Linked DNA regions of Homo sapiens: all the other regions are linked to region 3. The links come from fine-mapping of genetic effects on gene expression. A gene starts in region 3. Each other region holds a variant in brackets. All regions are shown on one strand. Distances are between the middles of the regions.

The links. PIP is the estimated chance that this variant, and not a neighbour inherited with it, causes the effect.
Region 1: its variant is fine-mapped to the expression of NME7 in whole blood (TOPMed, PIP 0.96).
Region 2: its variant is fine-mapped to the expression of NME7 in tibial artery (GTEx, PIP 0.94).
Region 4: its variant is fine-mapped to the expression of NME7 in subcutaneous fat (GTEx, PIP above 0.99).

Annotation. Positions count from the first base shown.
Region 1 is chr1:169,332,081-169,340,206 of GRCh38, reverse strand. The region is part of intron 1 of NME7 (NME/NM23 family member 7); the gene reads left to right. Among named protein-coding and RNA genes, the nearest start is that of NME7, 32 kb to the left of the region's middle. The variant T/C (reference allele first, on the strand shown) is at 3,977.
Region 2 is chr1:169,312,084-169,318,433 of GRCh38, reverse strand. The region is part of intron 3 of NME7 (NME/NM23 family member 7); the gene reads left to right. Among named protein-coding and RNA genes, the nearest start is that of NME7, 53 kb to the left of the region's middle. The variant A/TTTCA (reference allele first, on the strand shown) is at 4,360.
Region 3 is chr1:169,364,943-169,369,448 of GRCh38, reverse strand. NME7 (NME/NM23 family member 7) reads left to right here and starts at 1,652. Exons shown (of 12, transcript NM_013330.5): 1 at 1,652-1,741. The coding sequence starts at 1,739. BLZF1 (basic leucine zipper nuclear factor 1) reads right to left here and starts at 1,254. Exons shown (of 7, transcript NM_001320973.2): 1 at 1,107-1,254. RefSeq lists enhancers at 675-1,174, 1,433-1,512, 1,175-1,676, 616-1,815.
Region 4 is chr1:169,281,426-169,289,551 of GRCh38, reverse strand. NME7 (NME/NM23 family member 7) reads left to right here. Exons shown (of 12, transcript NM_013330.5): 7 at 2,144-2,249. Among named protein-coding and RNA genes, the nearest start is that of NME7, 82 kb to the left of the region's middle. The variant G/A (reference allele first, on the strand shown) is at 3,598.

The DNA.
Region 1 (8,126 bases), 31 kb after region 3:
CCAATCACCTTCCACCAGGCCCCTGTCTTGACACATGGGGATTATAATTCAAGAGGAGATTTGGCTGGGGACCCAGAGCCAAACCATGTCAATACTCAAATGGAATAACTGAAGAGTTTACTGAAGGGACTAGTTACAAAGGTATGGGCAGAGTAAGAGAAACTAACAAGGGATGGTACAGGAAGCAGAAGTCAGGGAGCCTTTACTACTTCTTGACCTATCAGGGAAAATGGAGAGAACTACCAGAGAGCAGCTGTAATGGAAAGGCTGTCTGACATGAGCTGTGGTCTTCATTGCAGAGGAGAAACTTAACCAATGTGATCTGGCAAGGAGGAGGAAGTAGAATAAATATCTTGGCCTCTCTGTTCTTCCTTTGATTTGTAGCCACTGGCTTCTACTGGCCAAACCCATGTAAAAGTCCAAGGGCAAGGGGGTCCTTTGATGAAGTTCATGGAGGTCAGCTGACCAGGCTTAGAACAGGATGGAGAAGAGCAGAGTGAAGGTCTGGAGAGACAAATGGAAAATGACAAATGGAAAATGTCTAGCACATCCACTTTCAGACCAAGTAGTACAATAGCTATGGGATAAAGGAATAACAAGACTTGGCTCAGTGTGTTTGTGACCTTGACAACAGTTGCTTTTTTGGAAAAACTCAAGGTTAGCATTTATATTGTTATTTTCTGTGTTATCATTTGATTTCTAGCTCAATAATAAAGTCAATTTTCTATCTGAACATTGAGTAGTTTATAATTGCTTAAATATTTTCATGCCATTATAATTAGACCCAGAATTTATTTATTGATTAAGAGCCATCTCTCTTTTTGGAATATTGTGGTTCAGTTAATTGTTGGCAAGTGATCTCTCATGGGTAACTCATGTCCTGGAGTTACTTAATACTTTATCAAGTATATTCTTTTAAGATGGTAGTCAGAGAAGCCCATACTTACCAAAAAAGTAAGAAAAGATGTCCTCTTTGAGAATCTTTCTGGAAATATAAGTAAACAGACTTACAAACAAATATTAGAGTTTGGGGGGGAGTTTTTTGAATATGGAAGAGTGGATTTTTGCCATTTTGTCAAGATCTATTGCTGTGCACATTTATTTACTCCTTTAGATCTTTATTTTGGTAAATATTTATTTGAGTATTTTATGGTCCCAGAACTAGGAGAGCCACCTTGAAGTTTCAAGAGAAATAAATGTTACAGCTTCTTTGAGAATTTCATAATTTTATTAGAGAGACAATTTGTATTGTATAATACAAAATTAGACGACAACCCAGTGTTCTACTGTGGGAACATCAGTCTGCCCGTGAAGAAACAAGGGTCCTTGTTAAACTATGCCACTTAACAAGTCAACATCATTTTTGCCAAGTCATTTAACTTATCTGACCTTCTGTTTCCTCATTGTTAATGTTCCTTTGATCTCTGAAATTCTGTGAAAATCAAATTCCAAGTAACAGAAATATACATTGGCTGGGGTTGGTCTGGGAAGACTTCATAATAACTGTGTTTTCTTTGAGATGTCTAAAGGAAAGTTCAACCTTTTTAGAGAGGTTTCCCTTGATAGATGGTGTGTGGCATTGTTTTTTCACTGGGCAGTGATCTGCAGAAGTCAGAGAGCAAAAATTTTCAAGATTATGGGGCCCAAGGTGAAGAAGTTTAAAAAGCTGTTTCTCCCCTGAAACTGGATGTGTGCCTTTTTAAACGATTCCATCTTGTTTGACCAGCTTCCTGCTATATATTCATACTGTGGAAATGGTTCTTTTCTGGCATTTTTCACTAACAAAATTTAGCAGGAGTTAAGTTGAAAGTGCATCTTAAACATCACAGTTGGGGAAATACAGGTGTTTGTGTTCTGTTCATTGCATCACTGACTTTTTTCTGTAAACACAAAAACAATGCATTCTATTTCTGAGATATTGTCTTGAAGTAACATTAAAAAACACAATCTTGGAAATATGTGGAATTCTGTTGAAAATATTTTTTCAAAAGAAATTTTAAACTGTAATTTTTTAAAAGCAAAAAGTGATTGCAATGGTATACTTAGTGTTTAAAGAATTTAAGTGAAATAGGATAGCTAACTAAATTTAATGATTCACCTAACTTTTCCTTCTGTTATAATTTGTTTTCCTTTATTAATGAGAAATGCTAAGTTGGAGTTGACAAATTAGATTCTTCACACGTGAAGACCCTTTTTACTTGAGTTTGCCTTCTGTCTGTCTTTACAAGATAGATTTATGAAGAAGGAATAGGTCTCTGTGAACAACCTGGACAGGCTCAAAACTGGTTATGGTCACACTAAAGTAAGGTTAATATTTGACACTATTCAATGTAAGAAAATTTCTTGGTCTTTGAAGGAAGCCCTGGAGGAAGACTATTTGATAAAGGATAGGTACAAAACAAGTTAGTGCTTAAAATCTAGCCTCTGACAATGGGATAATATAAACCTTTTCCTTGTGTTTTTATTTCTATTGTACTTATCACTGTGACATCTAAGTAAAGCAATGTGAATTACTATGCTTGTTTGCCTACTGTGTAGATAATACATTTTTAATGATCTGCTATTGAGAGGTGACAGCATGCTGGCAGTCCTCACAGTCCTCAGTCGCTCTTGGCACCTCCTCTGCATGGGCTCCCACTTTGGCGGCACTTGAGGAGCCCTTCAGCCCACCGCTGCGCTGTGGGAGCTCCTTTCTGGGCTGGCCAAGGCCAGAGCCCACTCCCTCAGCTTGCAGGGAGGTGTGGAGGGAGAGGCGTGAGCGGGAACCAGGGCTGTGTGCGGCGCTTGCGGGCCAGCTGGAGTTCCGGGTGGGCGTGGGCTTGGCGGGCCCTGCACTGGGAGCAGTCGGCCAGCCCTGCTGGCCCTGGGCAATGAGGGACTTAGCACCCGGGCCAGCAGCTGCGGAGGGTGTACTGGGTCCCCCAGCAGTGCCAGCCCACCGGCGCTGCGCTCGATTTCTCACCGCGTGCCTTAGCTGCCTTCCCACGGGGCACGGCTCGGGACCTGCAGCCCGCCATGCCTGAGCCTCCCACCCACTCCGTGGGTTCCTGTGCAGCCCGAGCCTCCCCTACAAGCGCCGCCCCCTGCTCCATGGCGCCCAGTCCCATCGACCACCCAAGGGCTGAGGAGTGCGGGCACACGGCACTGGGACTGGCAGGCAGCTCCACCTGCAGCCCCGGTGCGGGATCCACTGGGTGAAGCCAGCTGGGTTCCTGAGTCTGGTGGGGCCTTGGAGGACCTTTATGTCTAGCTCAGGGATTGTAAATACACCAATCGGCACTCTGTATCTAGCTCAAGGTTTGTAAACACACCAATCAGCACCCTGTGTCTAGCTCAAGGTTTGTGAGTGCACCAATCGACACTCTGTATCTAGCTGCTCTGGTGGGGCCTTGGAGAATCTTTATGTCTAGCTCAGGGATTTAAATACACCAATCAGCACCCAGTGTTTAGCTTAAGGTTTGCGATTGCACCAATGGACACTCTGTATCTAGCTGCTCTTGTGGGGCCTTGGAGAACCTTTATGTCTAGCTAAGGGATTGTAAATACACCAGTCGGCACTCTGTATCTAGCTCAAGGTTTGTAAACACACCAATCAGCACCCTGTGTTTAGCTCAAGGTTTGTGAATGCACCAATCGACACTCTGTATCTAGCTGCTCTGGTGGGGACTTGGAGAACCTGTGTGTCCAAACTCTGTATCTAACTAATCTGATGGGGACGTGAAGAACCTTTGTATCTAGCTCAGGGATTGTAAACACACCAATCAGTGCCCTGACAAAACAGGCCACTCGGCTCTACCAATCAGCAGGATGTGGGTGGGGCCAGATAAGAGAATAAAAGCAGGCTGCCTGAGCTAGCTGTGGAAGGGAAGGTCCCCTTCCACACTGTGGAAGCTTTGTTCTTTCGCTCTTTGCAATAAATCTTGCTACTGCTCACTCTTTGGGTCCATGCTGCTTTTATGAGCTGTAACACTCACCG[T/C]GAAGATCTGCAGCTTCACTCCTGAGCCCAGCGAGACCACGAGCCCACCGGGAGGAACGAACAACTCCGGACGCGCTGTCTTAAGAGCTGTAACACTCACCGCAAAGGTCTGCAGCTTCACTCCTGAGCCAGCGAGACCACGAACCCACCAGAAGGAAGAAACTCCGAACACATCTGAACATCAGAAGGGACAGACTCCGGATGCGCCACCTTAAGAGCTGTAACACTCACTGCGAGGGTCCACGGCTTCATTCTTGAAGTCGGTGAGACCAAGAACCCACCAATTCCGGACACACTATGTTCTCAGAATGTTCAAGGCAAAGTGAAAATTTCCTTGTTTAGAAGCCACTTTTCACTCACCCTTACTGGAAGCAGCTGGCTTGAGGGAGCAGGTTCTTAGATGGTGTTGATTTCTTTCTATATATATGTATATATATATATCTCTTCTGAAACATATATATAAATATATATTTAATATATAAAAGTATATATTAAATATATATTATTTATTTAATATATATAAAATATATAAACATATATATTATATATATTTCTTCTAAAAAAATCAGGATACATGTGCAGAACGTGCAGGTTTGTTACATAGGTACACATGTGCCATGGTGATTTGCTGCACCTATTGACTCGTCCCCTAAGTTCCCTTCCCTCATCCCCCACCCCACAACAGGCCCTGGTATGTGTTGTTCCCCTCTCTATGTGTTCTCATTGTTCACCTCCCACTTATGAGTGAGAATGTGTAGTATTTGGTTTTCTGTTCGTGTGCTAGTTTGCTGAAGATGATGGCTTCCAGCTTCATCCATGTCCCTGCAAAGGACATGATCTCATTCCTTGTTATGGCTGCATAGTATTCCATGGTGTATATGTACCACATTTTCTTTATCCAGTCTATCATTGATGGGCATTTGGGTTGGTTCCATGTCTTTGCTATTGTAAATAGTGCTGCAGAAAACATATGTGTGCATGTGTCTTTATAGTAGAATAATTTATATTCCTTTGGGTATATACCCAGTAATGGGATTACTGGGTCAAATGGTATTTCTGGTTCTAAATCCTTGAGGAATCACCATACTGTCTTCCACAATGGCTGAACTAATTTACATTCCCACCAACAACGTAAAAGCATTCCTATTTCTCCACAGCCTCGCCAGCACCTTGTTTCCTACTTTTTAATCGTCATTCTAACTGGTGTGAGATGGTATCTCATTGTGGTTTGGATTTGCATTTCTCTGATGATTAGTGATGTTGAGCTTTTTTTCATGTTTGTTGGCCACATAAATGTCTTCTTTTGAGAAGTGTCTGTTCATATCCTTTGCCCACTTTTGGATGGGGTTGTTTGTTTTTTTCTTATAAATATGTTTAAGTTCCTTGTAAATTCTGGATATTAGACCTTTTCAGATGGGTAGATTGCAAAAATTTTCTCCCATTCTATAGGTTGCCTGTTCACTCTGATGATAGTTTCTTTTGCTGTGCAGAAGCTCTTTAGTTTAATTAATTAGATCCTATTGTCAATTTTTGCTTTTGTTGCAATCGCATTCGGCCTTTTTGTCATGAAGTCTTTGCCCATTCCTATGTCCTGAATGGTATTGTGTAGGTTTTCCTCCAGGGTTTTTATGGTTTTGGGTTTTACATTTAAGTCTTTAATCCATCTTGAGTTAATTTTTCTATAAAGTGTAAGGAAGCGTTCCAGTTTCATTTTTCTGCATATGGCTAGTCAGTTTGCCCAGCACCATTTACTGAATAGGAGATCCTTTCCCCATTGCTTGTTTTTGTCAGGTTTGTCAAAGATGAGATGGTTGTAGATGTGTGGTATTATTTGTGAGGTCTCTATTCTGCTCCATTGGTGTATGTGTCTGTTTTGCTACCCATACCATGCTGTTTTGATTACTCATGCTGTTGATTTCTATTATAATGTCATTCAAGGTGAATGTGGGTTCATGGAGACTCAGACTAAACTTTAGAAGCTTGTTGAACTGTAACCTTTATCATCTACATAATTTACTCCAGAATGTCTTTGAAGTCAAACAGAAGCAGATACTTGGCTTGAAATAGATTGACTAGTTACTGACCCTTCAACATGCAAATCATGAAAATAAGACTTCTAGTTAGTTTAAGATATTTCTCCATCATGCATTATGGAATCCATTTAGTATGATTTAAAGAAGGGAGCACTTTTGTATGAACAAAAATATTTTGCTGCCTATTGTGAAGTAATTTTTCCTAAAATACAGCATTACAAAAATGCAATGTACATTTTTTTCAGTGCACTGTTAGAATTACAAGTCTGATAAGTATGTCCTGATTTTTATTGTTGTGGTTGTGTTGGTTTTTAAAACCTGATTTGTCTTAATAGGGGGTTAAATTGAAAGAATATAGTTGCTATTTCTAGAAATCGAGCAAACACTGCAGCTTATATAGGCTGCTTAGTCCAGTGTCTCTCAGAAGGGAGTTTCCATCCCTTCTTGCCACAGTTAAGGAGAGTGTCTAAGAGCAGATCTGGAGTCAAGCTGCCTGGGTTCACCTCTGTTTATAAGCTGTGTGATCTTGGCAAATTTCTTTTTTTTTAAAATATTAAATGTTTATGGGTACATAGTAGATATATATATTTATGGGGTTCATGAGATAGTTTGATACAGGCATGCAATGTGAAATAAGCATATCATGGTGAATGTGCTCTGTCCCCTCAAGCATTTATCCTTTTGATACATTTATCCTTTTGATATCCTTTTGTTACAAACAATGCAGTTACACTCTTTAAGTTATTTTAAAATGTACAATTAAGTTATTATTGGCTACAGTCACCCTACTCTGCTATCAAATATTAGGTCTTAGTCATTCTTTTTAATTTTATTTTTTTTGTACCTGTTATTCACCCCCACCTTCCCTACAGCCTCCCACTACTCTTCCCAACTTCTGATAACCATCTTTCTACTCTCCATGTCCATGAGTTCAATTTTTTTTCATTTTTTAGAACCCACAGATAAGTGAGAACATGTGATGTTTGTCTTTCTTTGCCTAGCTTATTTCACTTAACATAATGATCTCCAGTTCCATCCCTGTTGTTGCAAATGACTGGATCTCATTCTTTTTTATGGCTTAATGGTACTTCATTGTGTATATGTACCACATTTTCTTTATTCATCTGTTGATGGACATTTAGGTTGCTTTCAAATCTTAGCTATTGTAAACAGTGCTGCAACAAACATAGGAGTGCAGATATCTCTTCAATATACTGATTCCCTTTTATTTGGGTATATACCCTGCAGTGGGATTGCTGGATCATTTTTAGTTCTGTGAGAAACCTTCAAACTGTTCTCCATAGTGGTTGTTTTAATTTACATTCCTAACAACAGTGTACAAGGGTCCCCTGTTCTCCACATCCTCACCAGCATTTTTTATTGCCTGTCTTTTGGATAAGAGCCATTTTAACTGGGATAAGATGATATCTCATTGTAGTTTTGATGACATTTCTCTGATGATCAGTGATGTTGAACACCTTTTCATATGCTTATTTTCCATTTGTATGTCTTCTTTTAAGAAATATCTATTCAGATCTTTTGCCCATTTTGTAGCTGGATTATTAGATTTCTTCCTGTAGAGTTGTTTGAGTTCCTTAGGTGTTCTGGTTATTAATCCCTTGTCAGATTGGTAGTTTGCAAATATTTTCTCCCATTCTGTGGGTTGTCTCTTCACTTTGTTGATTGTTTTATTTGCTGTGCAGAAGGTTTTTAACTTGATATGATCCTGTTTGTCCGTTTTTGCTTTGATTGCCTATGTTTGTGGGGCATTGCTCAAGAAATTTTTGCCCAGACCAATGTCCTAGAGATTTTCTCCCATGTTTTCTTGTAGTAGTTTCATAGTTTGAGGTCTTAGATTTAAGACTTTAATCCATTTTTATTTTATTTTTGTATATGGCTGGAGATAGGGGGTCTAGTTTCATTCTTCTGCATATAGACATCTAGTTTTCCCAGCACCATTTATTAAAGAGGCTGTCTTTTCCCCAGTGTATCTTGTTTGCACTTTTGTTGAAAATGGGTTCGCTGTAGGTGTGTGGATTTTTTCTGGGTTCTCTATTCTGTTCCATTGGTCTATGTGTCTGTTTTTATGTCAGTACCATGATGTTTGGGTTACTATA
Region 2 (6,350 bases), 52 kb after region 3:
CCTTCATAGATCTCTCTTATTTCTCTTCTCTTTTTTATCTTTTACATTCCTCCTTAAAACAGCTTCTTGTCATCTCTTGAGCTCAGTTAGTCTCCATTCTTCCCTCCAAATTACTAACTGATGAAGAACTAACACAGGAGATAGATGTAGATCAAAATATTAAGTATTAATTTTACTTAGGCTGTCTTGTGAAAGCGTGTTTGAGAATGGTTGAGGCTTTCTTTCTATTCCTATTTCCTCTATCCCTTACACTGATCTGGAACTTGAGGCCTGCCTGAGGAAAAGTTGGATCTACAGAACAAACTAAGGGCATACTTGCCCAGGGTTCTCATCCTGCCTCCCAGCCCATGGAGCACAGGAGAGAGAGCACTAGAGAGAAACAGGCTTCCACTGCAGGTGCCGGACTCTGATTCCAATGTGCTTAACATGTGAAAGCAGGAGAACAATACGCTATCCCTTACTTGTACACTATCCCCTACTTGAGGGTCTGCAGGTCTGAGAAAAAAGAGGTCGGGCCACAAATAACCAGAAACCCTTAAATATGGCCGGACATGGAGAAGCAAATGGAAGAAGTAGAGAGAGAGAGCACTTTCTTATGGGAACAGGGATAGAAGTTACTTTACTCATGAGGAGCAAGAGTACACATTCCTAGTTGTTTTCTGGGTTTTATACCTTTAAGCCAATTGGCTGCCATGCTCTAGTAGACTATGGCTACTTCTCGGGGAACAGACCAGATGAATATTAGTTTAGTCTTGCTCTCACCTTTGGGAAACCTTTCCCTCAATACCAATTACTGTTGCTTTGTATATTGTCCTAGGACCAGTGGTGAGCAGTTGAGTTTTGGCTGCAGAAGGGCACCCTAATGCCTTAGAGGAATACCTTAGTTCAGTAACAGAGGCCTTGCTAAAAACTCACCCCCAATCTTTTTCTCATCTTTACTTATCTATAGTATCGTTGTCTAAGATGGCATGCTATTGATTATACGATAGACCCAACAACAGTGTAACTGCCTCCCAAATAATACAATGAAGAATGCCTTCTCATTATTAAATTCCCAGGGAGAAATTGATATTTTTTTCTGTAAAATAAGAATTCTGCCTTTCCATTCTACAATTCTCAGTCATATGGTCCTTGGTCAGTTAACAGATTAGAGTTGAATTTCCTTTTCAGCTCCAGCTTGAGCCATCTTTCCTTAGAAAGGGTTTGATTGATAGCGTATTTGGGTTAATTAATATCTTTTTGCCATCTCTTTTATACTTGCCCTGTTATGCTTTAGATATGTCTCTTGTAAATAACATATAGGTTTTTTTTCAATTTAATCTGGAATGGTTATATTTTCATTGGTAAAGTTAATACATGTACATTGAAATATGCTGTGATTATTGTTATTTTTGTATATGTTTCTATTTTACTGTTTTCCTGTTTTTCTATTTTTTTCTTCTTGCCTTTTCTTTGGATTAGTTGAAGAAATTTTTCTTCCTCTCTTCAGTTTTTTTTTTCTATTATATGGTTTTCTATTGAAGTTATAACAAATTACTACCAAGTTAGTCACTTAAACAATACAAATTTATGATCTTACAGTTCTGTCAGAAGTCCAATCAGATCTCATCAGGTAAAGATCAGGTGTTGATAAGACTGCATTTCTCTTGAGGCTCTAGGAAAGAATCAATTTCCTTGCACATTCCAACATCTTGAAGCCATCCACATTCCTTGGTTTGGGGCCACCTTTCTCCATCTTCAAAGCCACCAATAGCAGGCTTGAGTCCTCCTCACACTGACATCTCTCTGGTTCTCTAAAGCTAGGAAAGATTCTCTGACTTTAGGGACTCATGTGATGAGATTGGGCCCAGGGGAATAATCCAGAATAATCTCTACTATCTCAAGGCCTGTAATCTTAATCACATCTGCAAAGTCCTTTTTGGCAGGTGAGGTAATATATTTATACGTTCTGGAGATTATAATGTGGACATTTTTGAGGGGTAGTGTTATTCTGCCTACTATATTCTCTGTTGCTTTAGAGGTTATGTGATTTTTATACTTGTTCTTTATTGGTTAGGCTTGAAATTTTTTCATATATTTAACTTACAGTTCTATAATAATATGGCTCTCTCCCAACTCATACAACAAGATTAGGACACTTTAGCTCTAATCTTCTCTCTTAAATCTTACATAGTTTTGTTATTATTGTTGTTTTTGGACATTCAGTTTTTTTGCCTGCATGTTAGACATTCTTTTATTTATTTATTTATTTATTTTGATAGAAACAACATTTGCTTAGATTTACCTAAACATTTGTTCACCAATTTTTCTTGCATATCAACCTGTCCTTTTAGAATATTTTCTCTTCTTGTTATTCTTCATTTCTTCATTGTAAACTACCCGTTTCTTTTTAATCTGCACGTTTTTTATTTTACCCTCTTTCTTTAATGATACTATTGCTAGACACACAATTCTAAGTTGATGGTTATTGACCAATTTTCTTTATTCCCCTTTTCTGCTATTAGTAGTTACAGAATTATATATTCTATCAATTTTTAATATTTTTAATATATGCAATTAAGGGTATAAATTTCCTTCTAACTGCTTATAACTATATCCTATTATTTTTGATATGTAATTTTTATTCAGTTTGAAACATTTTTTACTTTCTTTGTGTTGTCTTCTTTGGTTTATTATTTATTTAGAATTATGTTTATTTCCAAACATACGGAGATTTGTTTTTCTCTTTTTGTATTGGAATCTAGCTGAATTGCATGTGTCTAGAGGACATATTCTTCATGATTTTTGCCTTTCAAACTGGTTAAGATTTGCCTCTGGCTTAGAATAGTCAATTATTAATGATCTATGTGTGTTAGAAAAGAATGTTTAGGCCAGGTGTGGTGGCTCACGCTTGTAATCCCAGCACTTTGGGAGGCTGAGGCGGGTGGATCAGTTGAGGTCAGGAGTTGGAGACCAGCCTGGCCAATGTGGTGAAACCTTGTCTCTACTAAAAAATTACAAAAATTAGCCGGCCGTGGAGGCGTGTGCCTATAGTCCCAGCTGCTTGGGAGGCTGAGTGGGAGAATTGCTTGAACCCGGGAGGTGGAGGTTGTAGTGAGCTGAGATGGCACCACTGCACTCCAGCCTGGGTGACACAGCGAGACTCCATCTCAAAAAAAAAGAAAAAAAAAAAAGAAAGAAAGAAAAGAAAGGAATGTTTAGTCTGCAGTTGTTTTGTATAGTTTTATATATTTATTCATTAGGTGAAGTCTGTGAATTGTGATGTTCAAATCTTTCACATATTTACTAATTTTTGGGCAGCTTATTCTATCAATTGCCAAGGTTTTATTAAAATTTTCTAATGTAATTATCATTTGTCTATTTCTTCTTGTAGTTATGTTAGTCTTTATATTATAATTTTAAGGGTATGTTACTAGGTGATTTAAATTGTTATATCTTCTTGGTAAATTGAATCTTTTATTACTATGAAGAGACCATCTTCATCTCTAGCAATGCCTTTTACTTTAAACTGTACTTTCTCTGATATTACTATAGCTGCACTGGCTTTCTTTTAGTTAACATTCGCATGGTATACCTTTTCCATTCTTTTTACTTTAGATTTTCAGTATTCTCTTCTATGTGTGCCTTTCATTAGTTTTTGTTTTTGTTTGTTTGTTTTTTATATCTTTTTTTTTCTTTAAGTTCCGGGATACGTGTGCAGAATGTACAGGTTTATTACATAGGTATACATGTGCCATGGTGGTTTGCTGCACCTTTCAACCTATCATCTAGGCTTTAAAATCCAATCAGATTATCTTTTTAAAAAAATTTTTTTATAAATACAGTTTTATAATCTGCATCTACTGTAGAGCACTTATTTGTAACGTAACTACTAATATACTTGGCTTTAACTCTGACATCTTATCCTGAGCTTTCTTCTCCTGCCTGTTTTATTATCTTATTTTTGATTGTTCGGATTGCTTGAGGATTTTTTTCATCTATTTTTTTTCTATATACAGTTAGTATTTACACTAGAAACTACAACATATGTACTTAACTTGATAAAGCTTAAATCTAATTAATATTTTAACCTCCTTCTTTAAAATCTAAGAATCTCAGAAGACTTTAGCTCAATTTTTGTTGGGATTTTTGCTGAATTATATGCTGTTTTTGTTGTGTATTTTTTTTTGTTTTTTTTCCATGAACCTAATGATTTACTATTATTGTTTTATGTAATGAGTATTCATTTAGGTTTCTTCACTTTTTGCTTTTTATCCTTTCTTTTATCTCAAACATTCTGTTTGGGATTATTTTACCTTTGCTTAAATTACATTTTTAAAAAATATTTTCCTTTTGAGTGTGTTTACTAATAGAAAACTC[A/TTTCA]GTTTGCACTCATCTGAAAATGTCTTTATTTCACTTACATTCATGAAACTATTTTCTTATCTCTGTTGTATCTTTTTGTTTCTCTGTGCTTCATTCTGAATCTGCTTTCTTCTGTCAAACCCTTTATCTAGTTCTCATTTTCATTATTGTATTTTCATCACAAGATATTCTAATATATTCTTTTTCAGATCTGCTTATTCCATTTTGTAGCTTACAGTTTTCTATTACCTGATAATGTTTTGTAGCTTGTCTTTTAGTCCTTTAACCATAGTTTGCACAGATACTTTACAGTTTTTCTCTGATTATCCTAGTATCTGAAGTATTTGTGGGTCTCTCTCTTTTCTGTTGTTTCTCCTGGTTTTCCCTCATGTTGGCCTTTTCCCTGTATGTGTGTATGTGTCTGTGTGATTATCTTTCTATATGATTGCCATGTGTGTATGTGTGGGTGTATTGCATATATGTAAATAATATATGTGAGATATGCATTTTCATATGAATTATTTGAGGTACAGGATGACATTACTTTCCTACTAGGAGGGAATTAATTGTCTTTGCTTCTGTCTTTTTCCCATAGGCATTAGCAGTCTGTATGATTGGTAGTTCAAAAATTCTAAGTTTTGAGACTGCTTAGATGATGTGAACTTGTATTGCCATTCAAGACCTGGTTGTTTCTGATTCACCTTAAGCGGGGGTGGTATAGCCTTTGGGTCCAAATTATTTTAGGAAGGATCATCTCTTGGGTTCTGTTACCCTTTCCCAATGATGTACTGCAAATCAAAGTTCAGATTTTCCAGATAGGCAATGCTGTCAAGTCAAAAACAACTTTCATTCTTACTTTTCATTCTTTGGTTGTTTTTTTTTTTTTTTCACTTTTGTCCCAGTAATTATTTATGATCTAGTCAATTTATCTTTAATTTTTAAAAGATTTTTTAAAAATATCAACTTTTTTAGTTTTTGGTGGAAGAATTGTTCTGAATAATTTTGCTATTGTTGCCAAGCAAAAGTCTTGATCACTGAATTTTCCACCAAATTACAGGTGCCTCATTTGAGACAGTTTTCCTTTATCCATGGGGCAGATATACACTTTATGCTTGTAAACAAAGTATGAGAAAAACCAAAAATTTAGCCTTGATGTTTAGAATAGGTTTACTTTTAGAATAGGTTTAGAATAGAATATTTACTTAAGACAAATATGAATCCCATATAGATTAAAGTTTACATATTTATTCTTTTTGGTCAATGGCATTTAAAGAGTCCATAGCACTGCACTATCTAAGATGTTTAATAGCACTGTACTATCTAAGACTTTATTACATAGCAATAGCACTATACTGTCTGGGACATTTATTGTACTGCAATCAGTCATCTTTCTCAGAAATATATTTGCTGCAATTTTTGCTCAGAACCTGATGGTATATGAAGACATTTATTGCATAGCTCTGTGAGAATTGTTATTTTCTGGAAATCTATATTCTGGGTTCGTGAAGGCTGGCCATACTGTTTTTTCACAAGAAGTAGTTACCGTGTATTGCTAAGAAGTTTTAATCTTAAATAGTGGTTTTTATAATGTTTTGTTTTCTTTTGAGAATATCTCACGCTGCATCTTACAGTGCTTGCCTCAGTGCAGGCAAGAGGATTACTAAGTGGTAGATTGTTACACTGATGGCTCTCAATGAATCATACCTTGTGGTTTTCTCTCACAGTGACTCTGAGCTTGACCACGTGACTTGCATTGGCCAAAGATATGTCAGCAAAAATGACTCAAGGGGACACTTGATAATTGCCTGTACATTGGTTGATGTGTGGTGGTATTTGAAGAGGCCTGCTCTAGCCTCCTTAAGGACCACAGGAAAGAAAAGCCTAGTTGTCTCAGCTGAGCACAGCCCCCAGCTGGCCCACTAGCTGAATACAGCTGTGTGAATGATCCTAGGTGAAACCATTGCACAGCCTACCTACAGAACCTTGAGAAATTGTTGTTTTACGCCACTACA
Region 3 (4,506 bases):
ATTTTAAAAATATCATATAAACACATAGAGTACCTCCAATTTAAAAGTTATGATATTTTAATTGCTTCTGTATTTAGTACGCATGCATTTAGAAAGAGAAATGTCCCTTATATCCCATTCTCACAGAAGGCATTGTTATGTCTACTAAAAGTCTCAAAAAAAAAAATTAGGGGTGGTTTACTTCTAAATACTCCGTTTCACCATCCTCACCAATACACTCTAAATTGTCAGAAGTATGTCCTGAATTTTAGCCAAGCAAAGGGAATGAAGTTACTGTGGTGGTTTTGTCATCCATATGACAAGAGGAATTTTAAAGTAATTACTTTCTTAGGAGACATACCGACACAATTTGTATACACACACACACATATCAAAAAGGAGCTTCTGTTTAGATGTTTAACAAACGACAAAAAATATTACTCAAGATAACATAATTTATACTTTTTTGGTAATAAAAAGTTAAAATTAAAATAGTGTAGCTCCAAAAGTAAAAAGAGAAACATATCGAGCCCATGCTTTCAGAAATGTATACATTGTCTTACAGTACAGACTCAGATTTACCAGAGAACATATAAGAAGGTGATGCTACTGCAATGATATAAATATGACAAACTGTACACTAGATGACAACTGGTTTCACTACAAAAAAAGATCGTTCTCAGTACTAGATACAACTCAGTTCAATTAGTGAACCCGACGACTAACTTTCTTAACAGTCACAAACTTTTCTACACTTACACTCTACTGCTCCGAAAAGAGGTATCCAAAAAACCCTTCGTAAGAGTAACGATCCCTGAAACTGCCCTTGATAGCTGCTCTGCGAAACGTACAGGCACAGCGAGTGCCTGCTGGCAAATGCCAAATGAAGCGGAGGGGGTGAAGAAGTAAGTAGGGGGAGTGAGCAGGTATGAAAGCGATAGGCCGGGAAGCGACAAGCCTGTCAACTTTGCTGTCCGGGGAAGTCGAAACCTAAGTTTCATCCCTGTCTGAAAAAGTCTTCCCGGAACAATCTTTCCCTAAATCCAAAGCTACTGGCCACCGAGCTCCAGCCAGACCTCCGTCCCTTTCCAACATCCTTAGTTATACCTGCTTGTCCTCGGATTTACCTCTAAGATTCTTATTCTCCGTATTTCAGGGGGCTTCACTTGATAGGCTCTTCGGATCGGTATCACCAGGTTAACTTCTCACAGACCTCTTCCATTCGGAAGCCGACCCGCCCAGTCCCTCCGCATATCCAGCAGCTCTCTCACTCCTAACCACTTCCGATTACTCAGGGTTTCGCTTCCGGAATACGTTTCCAAAAGAGCAGGGTAAACAAATTCTGCAGTGCGTATAAACTCAAGTAACACAGAACACACACTGTAAGGCCTCCGTAAGTGAAAAGCGGACAGATTTCTACTTTAAAATAAAATACCGTACAGCAACTTTTGGAGCCCAAGCCGCATATTCACTTAAACTTCCGGGCCAGCTGTTAAACAAACGGAAGTAAAACTGCCGGAAACAGAATAATGGCGTCTCGTAGCCCCAGGCGACAGCGTGGAGGGGCGGGTCTGTCGATTGGATGAACGCAGCTGAGATTACTCCCAGCCACTAAGGACGAAGAGGTGGGGCGGTGGCGTCCCACGCCTCGTGCGACAGTGGGCGGGGCTTTGTTGCCTGAGTAACCGTATGATGGTGGTGGTGGTGGTGTCTTCCTGTCTCAACGATACCTATTTTCTAGTGCTGAGATCCTGAGACAATGGTGAGTGCCAGGGGATGCCAGAAGAACGGCTCTGGGGTCCTACTTACTTAGCTTTCCAAGTCTTCGGGCGGATGGGCACTTAAAGTTGTCCGGTCCTCCCGACCTTCTCCCCGTTATCTCTTTCCCCCTTCCCACGGGCTGTTCCTGCAGTCTCCTCGCTCTCCGTATTTCTTACAGCACCCTGAATTCCACTAATGTTACTAAGTCTCTAGAGTAATGAAACAGAAAATTTAGGGTAAGGCATCGAGTCTAATAACCTGTTTTGAACAAACATTATGTGTTTGCATTGTTCATCATGGCATTTTTCATGTTCACAGATTCACATTAACGCGCTTTATTAAGAGTATGGGGTGGTGTGTATGTGACTGTCTCAACACTGATCTGAATCTCCCTAGATCTTGGAGTCTTTTTGCTTTTCTGAGTGGCAGAGCACTGCCCCACGCCCCCACGAGGGCCATTAACAGGTGTATGTTGGATCAGCGCTCTTCTATCCAGTTGGTTACCTTCTAGGTCTGTGCTTGCTTTTCTTTTCTCTTTTCTTTTCTTTCTTCTTCTTTTTTTTTTAAACAGAAATTTCTCCTGGGATTGCTTGGAGAGCTTCTGGAATTCACTGTTTGGGCTTCACCCCTGGAAATTCTGAATGAAAGGAATGGAGCTCGGTATTTGCATTTTAAATAAGCCTATAGGTTATTTTAATTCACCCCTATGTTTGAGAGGGTTCTAGTTAATTCACTTAACTACCATATCTTTTAAGCACTTATGGATAACGGACTGGAGGATAGAAAGATCTTTAGATAGTTATAGCTATGAATTTAGAAACAGAGCCCTCACCCACCACCCCTTGTTTCTTCATACTACTCAGCAATCCTTTTGGTTACCCCAGTTTTCCCCTGACCCATTCTCTGTGAAGACATTTTCAAACCTTCCCTTTACAAACCCTGTCTTTTGCCCTCTTCATTTCTCCTTTCTAAACATGATGGAGTATAACAGGCCATTTCTTCAACCTCATGCCCCCAACCTACACATTGCTCTATATTTTTGCCGAGCCTTTAGTCTTGTATTTCTAGTGTAGAGAAAGGGATATTAAAGGATAATCCATCCATCTTTGCTCTTGATCTCATTTGCTTCCATCTGTTACATTTCGCTTCCAGTTGTTTTTTTCTTTCCTGTGCGTTCAGCCTTTTCCTCTCCAGTTTCTTCTCTTCAGTGCTCAAGTCACACATCTTATGAAAATTAAATAAAGCAAAACCATGTCCTCCATCCTGTGTTTATCCAGTTATTTCCTAGTCCTCCTATCTATCAGTAAACTTCTTGAAAGGATATTATTTTTACTTATATCAAACAGACAAAAGTCTTCTGTCTGGCTTCTTTAATGGCTTCAAGAAAGTTGTTCTTGCTTAAGTTTCTAATGGCCTTTTAAATACCAAATACAGTAATTACTTCTCAAAATTTACATTACTTAGTCTCTTTGTGACAACTGAGGTTCATAGTCATTAATTCCTTTTACTGGCTGTGCCTGGTTTTTGAATGTCATTCTTTGGAATTAACTCCTTGATTACTTTCATTTCTTAGTCTAGACATTTTCCTTGGGTGATTTTGTCCACTCACATGGATTCTACTAACACCTTTGATTTTGCTTCTAAATTTCAATTTTCCTCTCAGATCTACTAATGCCTAACTCAGTTGCTTCCCGGACACATCTGTCTCAAATGTCCTTCAAACTTAATATGACCAAAACTGAACTTGCTATCTTTCCTCCTGGTTTCTCCTATTTTCACCAAGTTAAATAATGCTACTACTATATTATAACCTAAACTAGAAATCAGAGTTATCCTACATTCCTCCCTCTTCTATTTCTCCCATATTCAGTTGTTCACTAGATCAAATTTTAGTTTGTCATCTCCTCATTTCGTGATTATTTTAATAGTGACTTTTACAGTCTGGTCTGGAAATTCTCCAATCCATTATTTTCTCTGCCACAAGAAGGAATTTTTAAAAACCCAACCTGTTGATTTACTCACCTCCTTAAAACTCTAGATTCCCTATTTCCTACAGTAAAATGTCTAGAATGGCACACAAGTTCCTCCATGAACAAGCACTTTTCTGTCTAGCTTTTGCCTTTCCCTTTCCATACTTAAAAAAAAAAAATTCTCTTGCCTTTTAGCTACTTGCTTTTCATTGAACATACCAAGCAACTTCAAACTGGTAGTATGCCTCCTCTTTCTACTTTGCACTTGCAATTCCTTCTACACAGAATACTTGCACCCTCTTGTTGCTTGCCAAACTTATTTATTCTCCTATTACAGGCCAACGTGTTCTTCTTGCCCACTTCCCAGAAAGGCCAAACATTGAGAATGCAGGAGTTGCAGCAGAGAAAGAGTTTAATGGAGGCAAGGCAGTTGAGTGGAAGGATGGGAAATATTTCTAAAATCCGCCTCCCTGACAGCTTGGAAGTTGTGGTTTTCAAGGATAATTTTGTGGGCAGGTTGGTAGGGAATGGGCGCTGCTGATTGGTTGGGGATGAATTTATAGGTGTTTCCAAACTGTCTTCCTGTGCTGAGTCAGTTGTCTAGGTGAGAGTCATAGGACTAGTAGAGTCAGTTTCTTGGTATGAGGCATGTATCTGGGTGGCATCAGGAGGTTTGCCAGAATGCAGAAGCCTGGAAAATATCTCAAGACCAATCTTAGGTTTTACAATAGTGATGTTATCTAAAGGAGCAATTGGTGAAGTTACAAATCTTGTGACCTCTGGCTACATGACTTCT
Region 4 (8,126 bases), 82 kb after region 3:
CATGGTTTTTGGAGCTACAGTCACTTGGATTTGAATCCTGGCTTTGCCACTTGCTAACTTGTAAGGGCTTGTTACTTAAGCTTTCTGAGTCTCATTTTTCTCATTTGTACACTGTGGATATATTTATTTTGTTTAGCACATGCAGAATTTATTAGGTGCTGAATTTCAGTCATTCCCAAATATTCATTGAGAAACTGCTAGTGAACAAGTAATAAAGATGGACTAAGCCCTGGTGCTCTCCAACACATAGAGGTCAGCTAGATAGGAGAAAACCATCGAAGGAGACTGAGAGGGAGTAGCCAGTGAGGTAGGAAGAAAGGCAAGTAATGAAAGCATTCCAGAGTGTAGGATGTGACAAACTGTGTCAAATACTGTTGGTCAGGTAAGGTGAGGGCTGAGAATAATTAACCAGTGGACTTAGCAACATGGAGGTAGTAAGGGATTTTAATGAGCAGCTTTGGTGGAATGAAAACCTAATTGGTTGTGGATTTAAAAGAGACTGTAGGAGAGGAAGTAAAAATGGAAATGGAAAAGAAAGACATTTCTTTTGAATTTTGTTGTGAAGGGAACAGACCAATGGGAACTCTCGAAAGAGCATGCCCTTTCTAGTTTGCTACTCTATCATATTCTCTTGTCACACCACTTCTACTTCATTCCTTCATTGATCATCTGCCAGGTCCCTGTAGGTATTTGAATTTTCATCTGTACCATAAAGGTTCTCTCGGACCATGCAATCAAAGCATCTGGTATAGGACTAAAAGGGGTAGTTGCTGTTGTTATTGATTAAAAAGAATAATAAATAATGGCAGCAATATGATAGAAAGGCAGTTGGTATCTTAGGAATAGAACACTTTTTATTCTAGTGTCTTACCACTGGAAATGCTCAGGTGTATACACTACTATTTGAATAATTCCTCATCATCCTTGTGTTTAAAAAAATGCTCATCAGTGTGGCACATTAACACATTCTATAATCTTTTCATTTTAAATTTAATGAAAAATAAATACAGTTGATCCATAAACAACACAGGTTTGAACTGCACGAGTCTACTTATATGTGGATTTTTTTCAACAGAAGGATTGAAAATGCAGTATTTGCAAGAGGTGAAACTCACATCTACAGAGATTTGACTTTTCCTATAAGCAGGTTCCACAGGGCTGACTGCAGGACTTGAGCATGCATGGATTTGAGTACACACAGGGATTTGAGTACCAATCCCTTGTGTATACCAAGGGCTATTTGCATTGAGCCAGACATTGTTTTAGGTGCTAGGGGTCCTACAGAGCTATACAACTTAGTTCCCTCTTTTTCAAATTTATGATTTGATGGAAGATAAGTACCCAAATAACCATAACTTTGGGGGAACAAAGGTTGCCGGAAGGAGGCATCAGGAAATGCCTCCTAGTGGAAAGTGGTATTTGAGGTGGCTCTTTACACATTGGTAAGATTCTTTGGAGCTTGAGTCAGAGGGTTTTATAGGAAATAGTAGAAATAATAGCAGTGAAAGCTTAGAGACAGGAAAGCATCTAAATAATTAAAAGAACTGATTAGTGTGAACATCTTTGTGGCTAGTTCAAATTGTTGTGTTGTCATTTTAGTGAACCACATGCAAAGTGAATAACACAGCCTGAATCTGTTTATAAAACATGGTTCATTTGATTTTATTTTATACTAGGCCTATAGTTAGTTTTAAGTAGCTGTAGTTCTCAGATTCCTGATATTAATCTCTGTTCCTATAAAATTTCCTAGTTTTAAATTTTATTTTACATATTTTAATGAAAAATTTAAAATTAAATTTGTGTCTAATTAACTAATGCTTTGGGGAGAATAAGAACTTTATATTGGTATTTCCAATATTCAAAATTTATTAAATCTTTGTCCACTATATTCCTGGAACAAAATGACACATATTCTCATTGCTTTGATTGATACTTCTTTATATGCTCTTCTGGTTCTAAGTCTTGAAACAGGGTTAATTTAATCAGTGTGTCTTTGTAAAACTCATTTTTAGAAAATCTGAAACAAAAAATTTATATGATGAAACTCTAAAAGTAATTGCATGATTCTCCTCCCCCACAGAAATATCTTGTAAGTTCAAGATAAGAGATCACATTTGTCAAAATCATTTCTCTCTGTCTTTAGGAAATGGAGTTGTTTTTTCCTTCAAGTGGAGGTTGTGGGCCGGCAAACACTGCTAAATTTACTAATTGTACCTGTTGCATTGTTAAACCCCATGCTGTCAGTGAAGGTATGTTGAATACACTATATTCAGTACATTTTGTTAATAGGAGAGCAATGTTTATTTTCTTGATGTACTTTATGTATAGAAAATAAAGTATACTTTTAGTATTTCCATTTTTTTTCTTTGAAGGCACTTGAGTAAAGGTGACAAAATATAAGGGAAAATCTGTCTAAATCTCTATTTGTCTTTTCTTTGTGGATTTTTAGGAGGTGTTCTTTGAGTTGCTGATCATGCTCAGGCTCAGTCATACTGTTACAGATCTTGGCTAATTGACTTTTAGTCTGCCTTCTCTCTTTCTAATCACAAATTGTGATTCACTTAATTTACTTCAATAGCACTTTTTTTTTTTTTTTTTGAGACAGAGTCTAGTTCTGTTGTCCAAGCTGGAGTGCAGTGGCATGATCTCGAGTTACTGCAACCTCAGCCTCCCGAGTAGCTGGGACTACAGGCACATGCCACCATGCCCAGCTAATTTTTGTATTTTTAGTAGAGACAGGGTTTCACCATATTGGTCAGGCTGGTCTCAAACTCCTGACCTCAGATGATCTACCCACCTCGGCCTCCCAAAGTGCTGGGATTATAGGCATGAGCCACTGTGCCCAGCCAATAGCACTCCTGTTGTACAAATTAAAACAATGTCTGCCATACCTCTAGTATACCCTTTCTGAGAAGGCTGGAGAAATTTCCTTCAGTTCTTTGTATCTGAAACAGTTCTTTGACATATGTATGTATATACATGTTTGCATATATATACATATATAAAGAGAAAGAGTTTGCAAGTTCTTTTCTTATTTTTGTCTCAATTTCTTTATTTTATTTATTTTAGTCTGGTATATATATTTTTGTTAGGTATCTCAAATCTTTTTGGAAGTAAGATGGGGTATGGTTAAAAAGATCACCCTTAAAAAACTAGAATATACTAAATAATATACAGAAGTGATTGGATTTTAAAATTTTATGTCTCCTAAGTATCCAAGTAATCCATGTATATAGTAGAAAATTGGAAATAAAAAACCATTAAAAATGAAGTAAAAAAATACTGAATTCCCATCACCTGAAGATAGTCATTGTTAATGTTTTGATGCATTTCCTCCAAATCATTTTTTTCTGCATTTGTATGTGCATGTGTGTACACTGCTACACATGAATGTAATGGTTGAGATGTAGGTCTATAGGCTGTTGTTTAAATATAATTTTTGTGAGCATTTCTGGCTGCTGTTAAGTCCTCATTAATATTTTAATAGATTCTTTAATATTTAACAGCAATTGTATAGATGTAGTATGGTATTTGGATACTTAGGTTGTTTTCAGTGTTTTGATATTAAAATTAAAACTTTGAAGAATATCTTTATAC[G/A]TAAATATTTGATGATATCTCTAATCTTTTCCTCTGGCTAGTTTCCTAGAAATAGAATTACTTGTTGGAAGGATATGAGCCTTAAAGATCTTGCTGCATAATTAATACTTCTTTAATTTTTTAGGAAGTATTTTAGTATATTGTAAATCCTTAGGACCATGATTATAAGTAACTAACATGCAGCATGGATAACAAACACTTATGGAGAATATACCATTATGTGCCAGGTGGCAGACTGGTTCCTTATACATTATTTTTAATCTTCACAGCAAGTATGTCAAGTAGGTAAATTTGTTGCTCTTTTCCAGATAGGCAAGCTAAGGTTCCATGAGATTAAGTTGTTTCTCCTAATTTGGAATGGAAATTGAGGATGCAAACCCTGTTTGTTTGTTTGTTTGTTTTTAATCTCCATTCTGTTCCCTCTATACTCTATTGCCCTAATAGCAATAGCCACAAAAAAGTCACATGGCACATGATTAGTAACAATTCCATAGGAAGTGATAGTAATATTTGAAATGGCTGGTGTTGAAAATTTATGGAAAAAAACCTGGGATTTTATGTTTCACTCATTTTTCTTAGCTGGAGAGATTGTGTATGTGTATGTGAGTGTCTACACAGGTGTGGTATCCCTAATCCAAAAATCTGAAACCCAAATTACTCCAAACTCCAAAACTTTTTGAGCACAGACATGAAGCTCAAAGGAAATGGTCGTTGTAGCATTTTCAACCACTGGTTTATGTTTATTGGATTTTTGAATTGGGTATGCTCCACAAATACGTATCTACAGATATTTCAAAATCAAAAAAAAAATTGAAATCCAAAACACTGCTTGTCACAAGCATTTCTGTAAGGAATATTCAACCTGTACACACACACATGCACATACATACACCCGTGTATATTTGTGTACATATACATATATACATAAACACACATAGTACACTCACATTTTGAAAAAGTTCTTGTTTATAGGCATCAACTTTTTAAAAAGCTTATCCTTGACACCCTAAAATGTTTTATTCAATTTACCTGATCTAATCCTTTTCAAGGAAAAATATGTTGCAAGGAGAGTGAAATAAAATAAAGTGGTACTAGAATAAATACTAGTTGTATACCTTAATAATTGCACATATAGCTGGGAGAACTGATAGCCACATGGAGAAAATTGACACGGGACCCCTTCCTTATACCGTATACAAAAATTAACTTAAGATGAATTAAAGACTTAAATGTAAAACCCAAAACTATAAAAACCCTAGTAGAAAATCTAGTCAATAGCATTCAGGACATAGGCATGGGCAACAATTTTGTGAACAAAATGTGAAAAGCAATTACAACAAAAACAAAAATTGCCAGATTGGATCTAATTAAACTAAAGAGCTTCTGTACAGCAAAATGAACTATCATCAGAGTGAACAGACAACCTACAGAATGAGAGAAAATTTTTGCAATCTATCCATTTCACAAAGGTTTAATATCTGGAATCTACAAGGGACTTAAATTTACAAGAAAAAACAACCTCATTAAAAAGTGGTCAAAGGACATGGACAGACCCTTCTCAAAAGAAGACATTCATGCACCCAACAAACACATGAAAAAAAGCTGAAGTCAAATTGCTAACTAGAATAACCAATGCAGAGAAGAACATGAATGACCTGATGGAGCTGAAAAGCATAGCACAAGAACTTTGTGAAGAATACACAACTATCAATAGTCAAATCAATCAAGTAGAAGAAAGGATGTCAGTGACTGAAGATCAACTTAATGAAATAAAAAGAGAAGACCAGATTAGAGAAAAAAGAATAAAAAGAAATGAACAAAGCCTCCAAGAAATATGGGATTATGTGAAAAGACAAATCTGCGTTTGATTGGTGTACCTGAAAGTGACGGGGAGAATGGGACCAAGTCGGAAAACACTCTTCAGGATATTATCCAGGAGAACTTCCCCAAACTAGCAAAACAGACCAACATTCAAATTCAGGAAATACAGAGAACACCACAAAGATGCTCCTCGAGAAGAGCAACCCCAAGACACATAATCATTAGATTCACCAAGGTTGAAATGAACAAAAAAATGTTAAGGGCAGCCAGAGAGAAAGGTTGGGTTACCCACAAAGAGAAGCCCATTCAGACTAACAGCAGATATCTTTGCAGAAACCCTACAAGCCAGAAGAGAGTGGGGGCCAATATTCAACATTCTTAAAGAAAAGAATTTTCAACCCAGAATTTCATATCCAGCCAAACTAAGCTTCATAAGTGAAGGAGAAATAAAATCCTTTACAGACAAGCAAATGCTGAGGGAATTTGTCACCACCAGACCTGCCTTACGAGAGCTCTTGAAAGAAGCACTAAATATGAAAAGGAACAACCAGTACCAGCCACTGCAAAAACATACCAAATTGTAAAGAACATCGACACTATGAAGAAACTGCATTAACTAATGGGCAAAACAACCAGCTAACATCATAATGACAGGATCAAATTCACAACTAACAGTATTAACCTTAAATGTAAACAAGCTAAATGCCCCAGTTAAAAGACATAGACTGGCAAATTGGGTAAAGAGTCAAGACCCATCAGTGTGCTGTATTCAGGAGACCCATCTCACTTGCAAAGACACATATAGGCTCAAAGTAAAGGGATGGAGGAATATTTACCAAGCAAATGGAAAGCAAAAAAAGCAGGAGTTGTAATCCGAATCTCTGATAAAACAGACTTTAAACCAACAAAGATAAAAAGAGACAAAGAAGGGCATTACATTAATGGTAAAGGGAACAATGCACAAGAAGTACTGACTATCCTAAATATGTATGCACCCAATACAAGCGCACCCAGATTCATAAAGTACATGCTTAGAGGCCTACAAAGTGACTTAGACTCCCACACAATAAAAGTGGGAGAATTTAACACCCCAGTGTCAATATTAGACAGATCAACGAGATAGAAAAATAACAAGGATATTCAGGACTTGAACTCAGCTCTAAACCAAGCAGACCTAATAGACCTCCACAGAACTCTCCACCTCAAATCAACAGAATATACATTCTTCTCAGCACCTCATCACACTTATTCTAAAATTGACCACATAATTGGAAGTAAAACACTCCTGACCAAGTGCAAAAGAATGGAAATTATAACAGTCTCTCAGACCACAGTGCAATCAAATTAGAACTCAGGATTAATAAACTCACTCAAAACTGCACAAAATACATGGAAACTGAACAACCTGCTCCTGAATGACTACTGGATAAATAACAAAATAAAGGCAGAAATAAAGATGTTCTTTGAAACCAATGAGAACGAAGATACATCATACCAGAATCTCAGGGACACATTTAAAGTAGTCTTTAGATGGAAAATTATAGCTCTAAATGCCCACAAGAGAAAGCAGGAAAGATCTAAAATTGATACCCTAACATCAAAATTGAAAGAACTAGAGAAGCAACAGCAAACAAATTCAAAAGCTAGCAGAAGACATGAAATAACTAACATCAGAGCAGAACTGAAGGAGATAGAGACACAAAAAACCCTTCAAAAAATCAATGAATCCGTGAACTGGTTTTTTGAAAAAATCATCAAAATAGATAGACTGCTAGCCAGACTAATAAAGAAGAAAAGAGAGAAGAATCAAATAGATTCAATAAAAAATGATATAGAGGATATCACCACTGATCCTGTAGAAACACAAACTACCGTCAGAGAATATTTTAAACACCTCTACGCAAATAAACTAGAAAATCTAGAAGAAATGGATAAATTCCTGGACACATACATCCTCCCAAGTCTAAGCCAGGAAGAAGTAGAACCCCTGAACAGACCAATAACAGGTTCTGAAATTGAGGCAATAATTAATAGCTTACCAACCAAAAAAAGTCCAGGACCAGACAGATTCACAGCCAAATTCTACCAGAGGTACAAAGAGGAGCTGGTACCATTCCTTCTGAAACTGTTCCAAACAATAGAAAAAGAGGGAATCCTTCCTAACTCATAAAATGAGGCCAGCATCATCCTGATACCAAAACCTGGAAGAGACACAACAAAAAAAGAAAATTTCAGGCCAATATCCCTGATGAACATCTATGAGAAAATCCACAATAAAATACTGGCAAACCGAATCCAGCAGCACATCAAAAAGCTTATCCATCACAATCAAGTGGCTTCATTGCTGGAATGCAAGGCTGGTTCAACATACACAAATCGATAAACGTAATTCATCACATAAACAAAACCAATGACAAAAAACACATACCTCAATAGATGCAGAAAAGGCCTTCAATAAAATTCAGCACCCCTTCATGCTAAAAACTCTCAATAAACTAGGTATTGATGGAACATATCTCAAAATAATAAGAGCGATTTATGACAAACCCACAGCCAATATCATACTGAATGGGCAAAAGCTTGAAGCATTCCCTTTGAAAACCGGCACAAGACAAGGATGCCCTCTCTCACCACTCCTGTTCAACATAGTATTGGATGTTCTGGCCAGGGCAATAAGGCAAGAGAAAGCAATAAAGGGTATTCAGATA